Homo sapiens: one gene and its partner. The protein of the gene in region 2 purifies or fractionates together with the protein of the main gene of each other region. This does not show direct contact. Each region holds a gene or a part of one and is shown on either strand. Other genes may lie near its edges.

The links.
Region 1: the proteins of UBXN2A (region 2) and UBXN10 purify together in Homo sapiens (affinity purification with mass spectrometry, with the first as the bait; one large-scale study listed by BioGRID). This does not show direct contact.

The regions. Positions count from the first base shown.
Region 1 is NC_000001.11:20,189,096-20,192,595, reverse strand, and holds part of UBXN10 (UBX domain-containing protein 10), read right to left. Parts: intron 2,050-3,500; 5' UTR 2,035-2,049; coding exon 1,192-2,034; 3' UTR 1-1,191. UniProt on the Homo sapiens protein: VCP/p97-binding protein required for ciliogenesis. Acts as a tethering factor that facilitates recruitment of VCP/p97 to the intraflagellar transport complex B (IFT-B) in cilia.
Region 2 is NC_000002.12:23,981,763-23,985,789, forward strand, and holds part of UBXN2A (UBX domain-containing protein 2A), read left to right. Parts: intron 1-1,133; coding exon 1,134-1,271; intron 1,272-2,910; coding exon 2,911-3,069; intron 3,070-4,027. UniProt on the Homo sapiens protein: Acts to repress the ubiquitination and subsequent endoplasmic reticulum-associated degradation of CHRNA3 by the STUB1-VCP-UBXN2A complex in cortical neurons.

The DNA of each region.
Region 1 (3,500 bases), on a different chromosome or scaffold from region 2:
GTCTGGCTGAACTTGCAATAGAAGAGAACATTGGCAAACTGTCCACATCAGCACTTCGAAGTTGGAAACACAAGACCCCATGGTCTTCAAAGCAGCTCAGGCTAAGACAGGCTGATGTACTTCATGCCGGTCAACCAGATGCTCGGGCACATGGTCTCTCAGCACAGGCACAGCAAAGTAACACGAGACCAAGGCACCCCCCTCCTCCTCCAGAGGTTCTAAGTCAGAACAGGCACCTCTGTCACAGCTCCAAAGGACACACCATGTTTGAAGTGGGCAACGCACTGAAACTGGGGAATAAAACAATTGCTCCACCCCCAAATAAGCCAAGGAGGTTGTCAGTACAAACCTGTTTAAACTTATAGGTTTGTACATTTTAAAAACAAAAGATTCCATTACTGACAAAAGCAAAAGAAATCAGACTGCACTGGCTTTTCTCGGTTTTGGAAGAATTCAGCCCACAGAGTAGCTCCCAGAAGTTGTAAACCTAGTCAGTCTCTATTAAAAAGTAGCTACTGGGTAATCCATGCTCATGGAAGCAACTTACTTTCAAGCTTTAGGACTATTTTAGAAATGCTGATGTTTTGGGGAAGAAAACCCATTCTTCCCTTAGATGCCACCTCACACAAATAGTAAATCCCTAAGAAACTGACCATGCATGGTAAAGGGCTACTTCCAAAGATGGGGTCAACGGCCTGTTTCTTCAAAATACTCGCAAGAAACACAAATGCCAGTTAGATAGTTCCTACACTGTGGTTATTTACCAGACTAGAATCCTCTCTGGGAAGTGTTTAATCCTGCATCAAATACAGACAGGAAAGCATTGGCTTCGAGAGAATCACAGTTCACTGTAAAGGCAAGCCGGTGTTCGAAAAGGACCATTAATTCAGAAGGACCCAAAACTCTGGAAAGGAGAAGTCATGATCACTGCTGTTTCAGGAACAACCTTGGTAACTTGCCAGTTACGCTGGTGGTGGAGAGAATGGAACAGCTGGAAGGGAGACTTCTTAGCGCGCTCGGCATAGGCACAGACTTCACTGCTTCAGAGGACACGCAGTGCAGACGAGAGTCCCAAGCTTCCCAGCTGCACCAGGTCCACATGGCACTTGAAACAGGCTGCCTAAGAGGCCACAACGCCCAAGCATGCTCCTTTGCTCAGAGACCCAGGACCTCAGCTGGGTGGCTGTGGACTCAGGGCCACCCTTCCCCATCTTCCAGTGAGATGCCCAGCACAGACTTGTGGGGGATTCTGCACTCTTGCAGAGATTTGGTGAGGTCAGAAAATCGCCTCCTGGGCACCTCCATTGTTTCAATGCTGCAGTGTCGGTAGGAGGTTTTGTTTTTCTGTTCGGCCACAGCAACAATGGTTTGCAAATCATCTGTTGGCCGGAAATGGCGTACAAACCTTTGGCCTGTTGGTGATCTAACAGCAAGCAGCAACCTTGGTTCTTGGTCCGATGGTTCCTCCAGATTTCCAGCCCTGGAAGAGCCCTGTTTCTTGGTTCGGACGATGAATTTCCTCTCCACGGCACAAGCTCGAGCTCTGGAATCTTCTTCACTTGTCTTCATGGTGCCCGTCTCGTCTTGGTAAAGAGCCCGGATACTGCTCAGTTGCAGTGAGCTGGCCTTTTTGGCAACGGTTTCCACAGCCTCCTCCTCCAGGTTCTTTCTGTTGATGGAAGGAAGGACTGGATACTTATTGAGAGAAGAGGAAGCCCCAGTGGGTACTTGCTGCTGCAGCTCAGGGATCTCATCAGAAGCTCCCTGGTTTGGAGATTTGGGTGCACAGGCTCCTGGTTTTTGGCTGCTTGGCAACTCATAGGGAATGGCTGGAGGCGGAGATGGTATATGATGAGCGCACACCTCCACGCCCTGGGATTTCTGCAGACTCGGTCTTGTCCGTCCCTTGGCGGACTTGGGCCTTATCATGTGCATATTTAGTGAGTTTGGCTGCCAAATGAGGCTGTCAACTGCTGTGCTGACAACAGTGCTACACTCAGGTGGTGCTATATTCACAGGGGCTTCTGTGGCCATTGCTTCTCAAGACCCCTAAGGAAGCAGGAAAAAAACAGGAGTCCGTGGGTTAAACTTCCTGGGACTCCTAGATCCAAGCCATTCCCTCCCTGAGTGCCCAGAATAAGCACAAATTTCTGGCATCTAGTAAGGGGCACCAGCTGCAATTTATTCATTCAGGCATGCATTCATTTATTTTAGGCACTTGCGAGAGATCAGCAAACCGAAGTCCTTGCAATGTAAATTATTATAGTGAGGAAAGACAGGGGTTAAAACCCACAAGTAAATAGATATTTTCAAAGAGTAACAACCGCTATGAAGAAAATAAAAATTATTGCACCAGAGCGTGATTAAGGTGGGGGACTAATTCTTATTCTTTTAGGAGGGGGGAAGTTTCTGGTAAAAACCAGAAAACCTGCTGTGTTTCAGTAAAACTTCATTTTTGGACTCTGAAATTTGAATTTCAGATAATTTTCATGTGTCACAAAATACTCTCTTTTGATTCTTTTTCAATGATTTAAAAATGTGAAAGCTATTCTTAGTTCATGAGCCACACAAAATAGGTGACGGGCCGGATTTGGGCTGTGGGCCATCATTTGTTGGTCCCTGTCCTACAGCAACTCTGGGCGCATGCTAATTCTACAGATGTATGAGCCAGAAAGGTAGAGTGATTTCCCAATGGTCACACAGCCAGCTGGTGGCAGAGCTGGAGATAGGACCCAGGTCTTGTGACACCCGATCCTGTGTCCTCTGTACCCATACAAGCTGCTTCCTGAGCCCAGCACATCACATTCTGTATGTCTGCTAGCTGCTCACATTTCTTTTTTTCTTTTTCTTTTTTTCTTTTTCTTTTTTGAGACAGAGTCTCACTCCATCACTCAGGCTGCAATGCAGTGGCACCATCTCAGCTCATTGCAATCTCCGCCTCCCAGGTTCAAGCAATTCTTGTGCCTCAGCCTCCCGAGCTGTTCAGACTTCTGTCTTCCCAGCTACCCGATAGGCACCCTGGGGCCTCTGTATTTGGATCTCCCACCAAAAGTCTGTGTGAGTGCTGGTTAAATCCACCAGGAGCAATGAACTGAAGCATGGTGGGAGGCGTGAACATTTCTCTGTGCAGACCCGGAATTGCTAAACCATGACACCTCCTCTTTCATTGCCATCTTGGTGGCCACTTCACTAACACTACTACCAGCACCTCCTCCTCCCAATCTCCAGTTCCATCTTTCCCTAAACATTGCAGACATCTTATTGGGCTCCCTGCCTCCCTCTGAATCCTGACCACCACTGTGACTCCTGCCTTCTCTGCTTGAAAGCTGACCTGGCCTCTCCTAGCCTTCTAAAGACCTTCTGGTGACTTTCCAGTGATTCATGGTCCCCAAGAAACAGCATATTTGGGAGCAAAGGACAGAGGACCAGGTGTCACAAAGTGTGGGTTCAATTTCAGCTTCTCTGCCACTGGCTAGCTACCTGATCAAGGGGCAATCACT
Region 2 (4,027 bases):
CTATAGTCCCCGCTACTCAGGAGTCTGAGGCAGGAGGATCGCTTCAGCCCAGGAGGTCAAGGCTGCAGGGAGCCATGATTGCACCACTGCACTCCAGCCTGGGAAACAGAATGAGACCCTGTCCCAAAAACAAGAAACTCAAATTATTTATTTAACAGAGATATCCAGTCTTTTGGCTTCCCTGGGCCACATTGGAAGAAGAATGGTCTTGGGGCACACATAAAATACTAAAATACACTAATACTGACGATAGCTGATAAGCTTTAAAAAAATTGCAAAAAAGTCTCATAAATCTCATAATGTTTTAAGAAAGTTTTCCAGGCACGGTGGCTCACACCTGTAATCCCAGCACTTTGGGAGGCTGAGGCGGGCAGAACACAAGGTCAGGAGATCGAGACCATCCTGGCTAACACGATGAAACTCCATCTCTACTAAAAATACCAAAAAAAAAAAAATTAACTGGGCGTGGTGGCAGGCGCCTGTAGTCCCAGCTACTTAGGAGGCTGAGGCAGGAGAATGGCGTGAACCCGGGAGGCGGAGCTTGCAGTGGGCCGAGATCGTGCCACTGCAGTCCAGCCTGGGCGACAGAGCAAGACTCCGTCTCAAAAAAAAAAAAAAGTTTACAAATTTTTGTTGGGCCACATTTAAAGCCGTCCTAGGCCACAGATTGGACAAGCCTGGTGTAGTATATAGTCATCAAGTATTTCATGACTTTAGTACTATTTTAGGTACTGCTATAAAACTCATGCTGGTTGGGGGGCAGTGGTTCACGCCTATAATCCCAGCACTTTGGGAGTCTGAGGGAGGAAGATTGCTTGAGCCCAGGAGTTCAAGACCAGCCTGGACAAGACCCTGTCTCTACAGAAAATTTAAAAAATATATGCTTTCACAATAAAAAATAATAAAAACTGATGCTGTTCATGAGCTTATGGTCTTAAAAATTATATTCCTGTGGGTTTTTGGTATTCATATTATTTAACTACATTGTTTTGAATACATTTAGTTATTTCATTGTATAGAATATTATATATTTCTGTATATTTCTACATATTCATTTTTTGTATGTACAGAATGTTTTTCAGAGAAATAAAATACATTGGGAGCTTTATCATTTTCTTTCTTTGTTTTCCAAGGGAATTACCTTCAGAATTACAGGGAATTTTTGATAAAGAAGAGGTGGACGTTAAAGTTGAAGACAAGAAAAATGAAATATGTTTGTCTACGAAGCCTGTGTTCCAGCCCTTTTCAGGACAGGGTCACAGACTAGGAAGGTAAATATGCCTATTGTCTTGTTTTGCATAGATCAAGGCTTAACTAATATTCTGTCTATCAGTATTTTACCCATGTAGACCACATGAATGGAGCTTATCATTTCTCCCATTGGAAATCAGATTTTTTTTAATGTTAATTTTTATGAGGACACATAAGTCATAGTTACCTAAGTATATATTAACAATGCCTGGCCAGGCATAGTGGCTCATGCCTGTAATCCCAGCACTTTGGGAGGCCAAGGTGGGCGGATCACCTGAGATCGGGAGTTCGAGACCAGCCTGACCAACATGGAGAAACCCCGTCTCTACTAAAAATACAAAAAATTAGCCAGGCGTGGTGGCATGTGTCTGTAATCCCAGCTCCTCGGGAGGCTGAGGCAGGAGAATCGCTTGAACCTGGGAGGCAGAGATTGCGGTGAGCCGAGATCGCGCCATTGCTCTCCAGTCTGGGCAACAAGAGTGAAACTCTGTCTCAAAAAAAAAGAAATGCCAGCAATACAGTAAAAAATCATGCAGGCTTTTTTGTTTTTCTTTTTTTCAAATCAAAAGGGCTTGGCTTATTAAGGACAGAATTCAATAGTTAAGTTCTTTTGTGTCCCTTGCACTCACCACTGTAGAGTACATGTACTAGCTTTTGAATATTATTGTTCTCTTTTTTTTGAGACAGAGCCTCACTTTGTTGCCCAGGCTGGAGTGCAGTGGCATGATCTTGGCTCACTGCAACTTCTGCCTCCCTGGTTCAAGCAATCCTCCTGCCTCAGCCCCTCTAGTAGCTGGGATTACAGGCATACACCACCACGCCCAGCCAATTTTTGTATTTTTAGTAGAGACAGGGTTTCGCCATGTTGGCCAGGCTGGTCTTGAACTCCTGACCGCAGGTGATCCACCCACCTCGGCCTCCCAAAGTGCTGGGATTACAGGTGTGAGCCACCGCACCCAGCCTATTGTTCTCTTTTATGGTTACCACTGTCTGCAACATTTTGTTCTGTGATCTATGTATGAATTTTGAGGTAATAAAAATGAAAATCAGTGTCAGTATCAAAGCCTTAAATTATTTTCAAGTTTTACAGTTTCCATCCTATCTAACAGAATATGCAGAGAGATTATATAGATATGAGAGCTCTTTGATTTTTATAAATTCTCATATTTTAAATTATCAAGATTGGTAAGGTGCATACATATTCATCCACACATACAAATATATCTGGATGCATCCTTCAGAATGATCAGGAAGTACTTTATTTAGTTTCTTTTTCATTATAACCTAAGGACTAAGCTCAATAAAGAACTTATAATTTCTTCTAGAAATTTAACCTGGGCAGTAGGTAAAGGTAAAGTCCATAGATCTATGAACCTTCTTTAAAATTATCCATTCTGTAAAGCACTACTCAAATAATACCAGTAATAATATATGTAGCTTACAAATTACTCAGATATGTATAACTTCATCAGATTCTTAGAACCATCATATATTGTGGACATAAATAATATATCTTTCTGTTATTACTGAAGAAACACATATAACTTAAAAAATCTTCCTTAAAGTTATACTTGCTATAATATTTTTATAGTAATTATTTAATAATAAAGTTTTATTGAATGGAAAAAACGTCTAACTTTGTTGTCTGGATTTCCTTAGTGCCACACCAAAAATTGTTTCTAAAGCAAAGAATATTGAAGTTGAAAATAAAAATAATTTGTCTGCTGTTCCACTGAACAACTTGGAACCCATTACTAATATACAGATCTGGTTGGCCAATGGAAAAAGGATTGTCCAGAAATTTAACATTACTCATAGGTGAGTCTTCAATTTCAGTATTTGATATTTTTTCACCAAGTTAAAATTTCATTTTTTCTTTTTGGTTCAGTCAACAGTTTATTTTTTAGAGATAGAATCTTTCTTTGTTGCCCAGGCCAGAGTGCAGTGGCACAGTCATAGCTCACTGCAGTCTTGAAGTCCTGGATTCAAGCAATCCTCCCACCTCAGCCTCCTGAGTTGTAGAACTACAGCCACATGCCACCATGCCCAGCTAACTTTTTTTTTTTAATTTTTATTTATTGCCAGCTAATTTTAAAAATTGTTTTGTAGAAAGGGAGTCTCACTGTGTTGCCCACACTGGTCTCAAACTCCTGGACTGAATTCATCGTCCTGCCTTAGCCTGCCAAAGTGCTGGGATTACAGGCATGAGCCATCGCATCCTGCCAAGCATTTTATTTATTTATTTATTTTTTTGAGTCGGAGTCTCGCTCTGTTGCCCAGGCTGGAGTGTAGTGGCACGATCTCAGCTCACTGCAACCTCTGCCTCCCAGCTTCAAGTGATTGTCCTGCCTCAGCGTCCAATGTAGCTGGGATTACAGGTTTGCACCACCAAGCCCGGCTAATTTTTGTATTTTTAGTAGAGACGGGGTTTCACCAGGAGTTTGGCCAGGGTGGTCTCAAACTTCTGACCTCAAGTGATCTGCCCGCTTTGGCCTCCCAAAGTGCTAGGATTACAGGAGTGAGCCACCTCGACCAGCCTGGCCAAACATTTTAATAAATAGTTCTCTAAACATAATTATGTCTAGACAGTTTTTTTTTTTTTTTGAGGCAAGGTCTCACTCTGTCACCCAGGCTGGAGTAGAGTGGCGCGAGCCACCGTGCCCAGCTGATAATGGGTATTTTTAAACATTGAATGAGGTAGGCCAGGTGCAATGGCCCATGCCTGTAATCCCAGCACTTTGAGGGGCCAAGGCAGGAGGATCACTTGAGCTCAGGA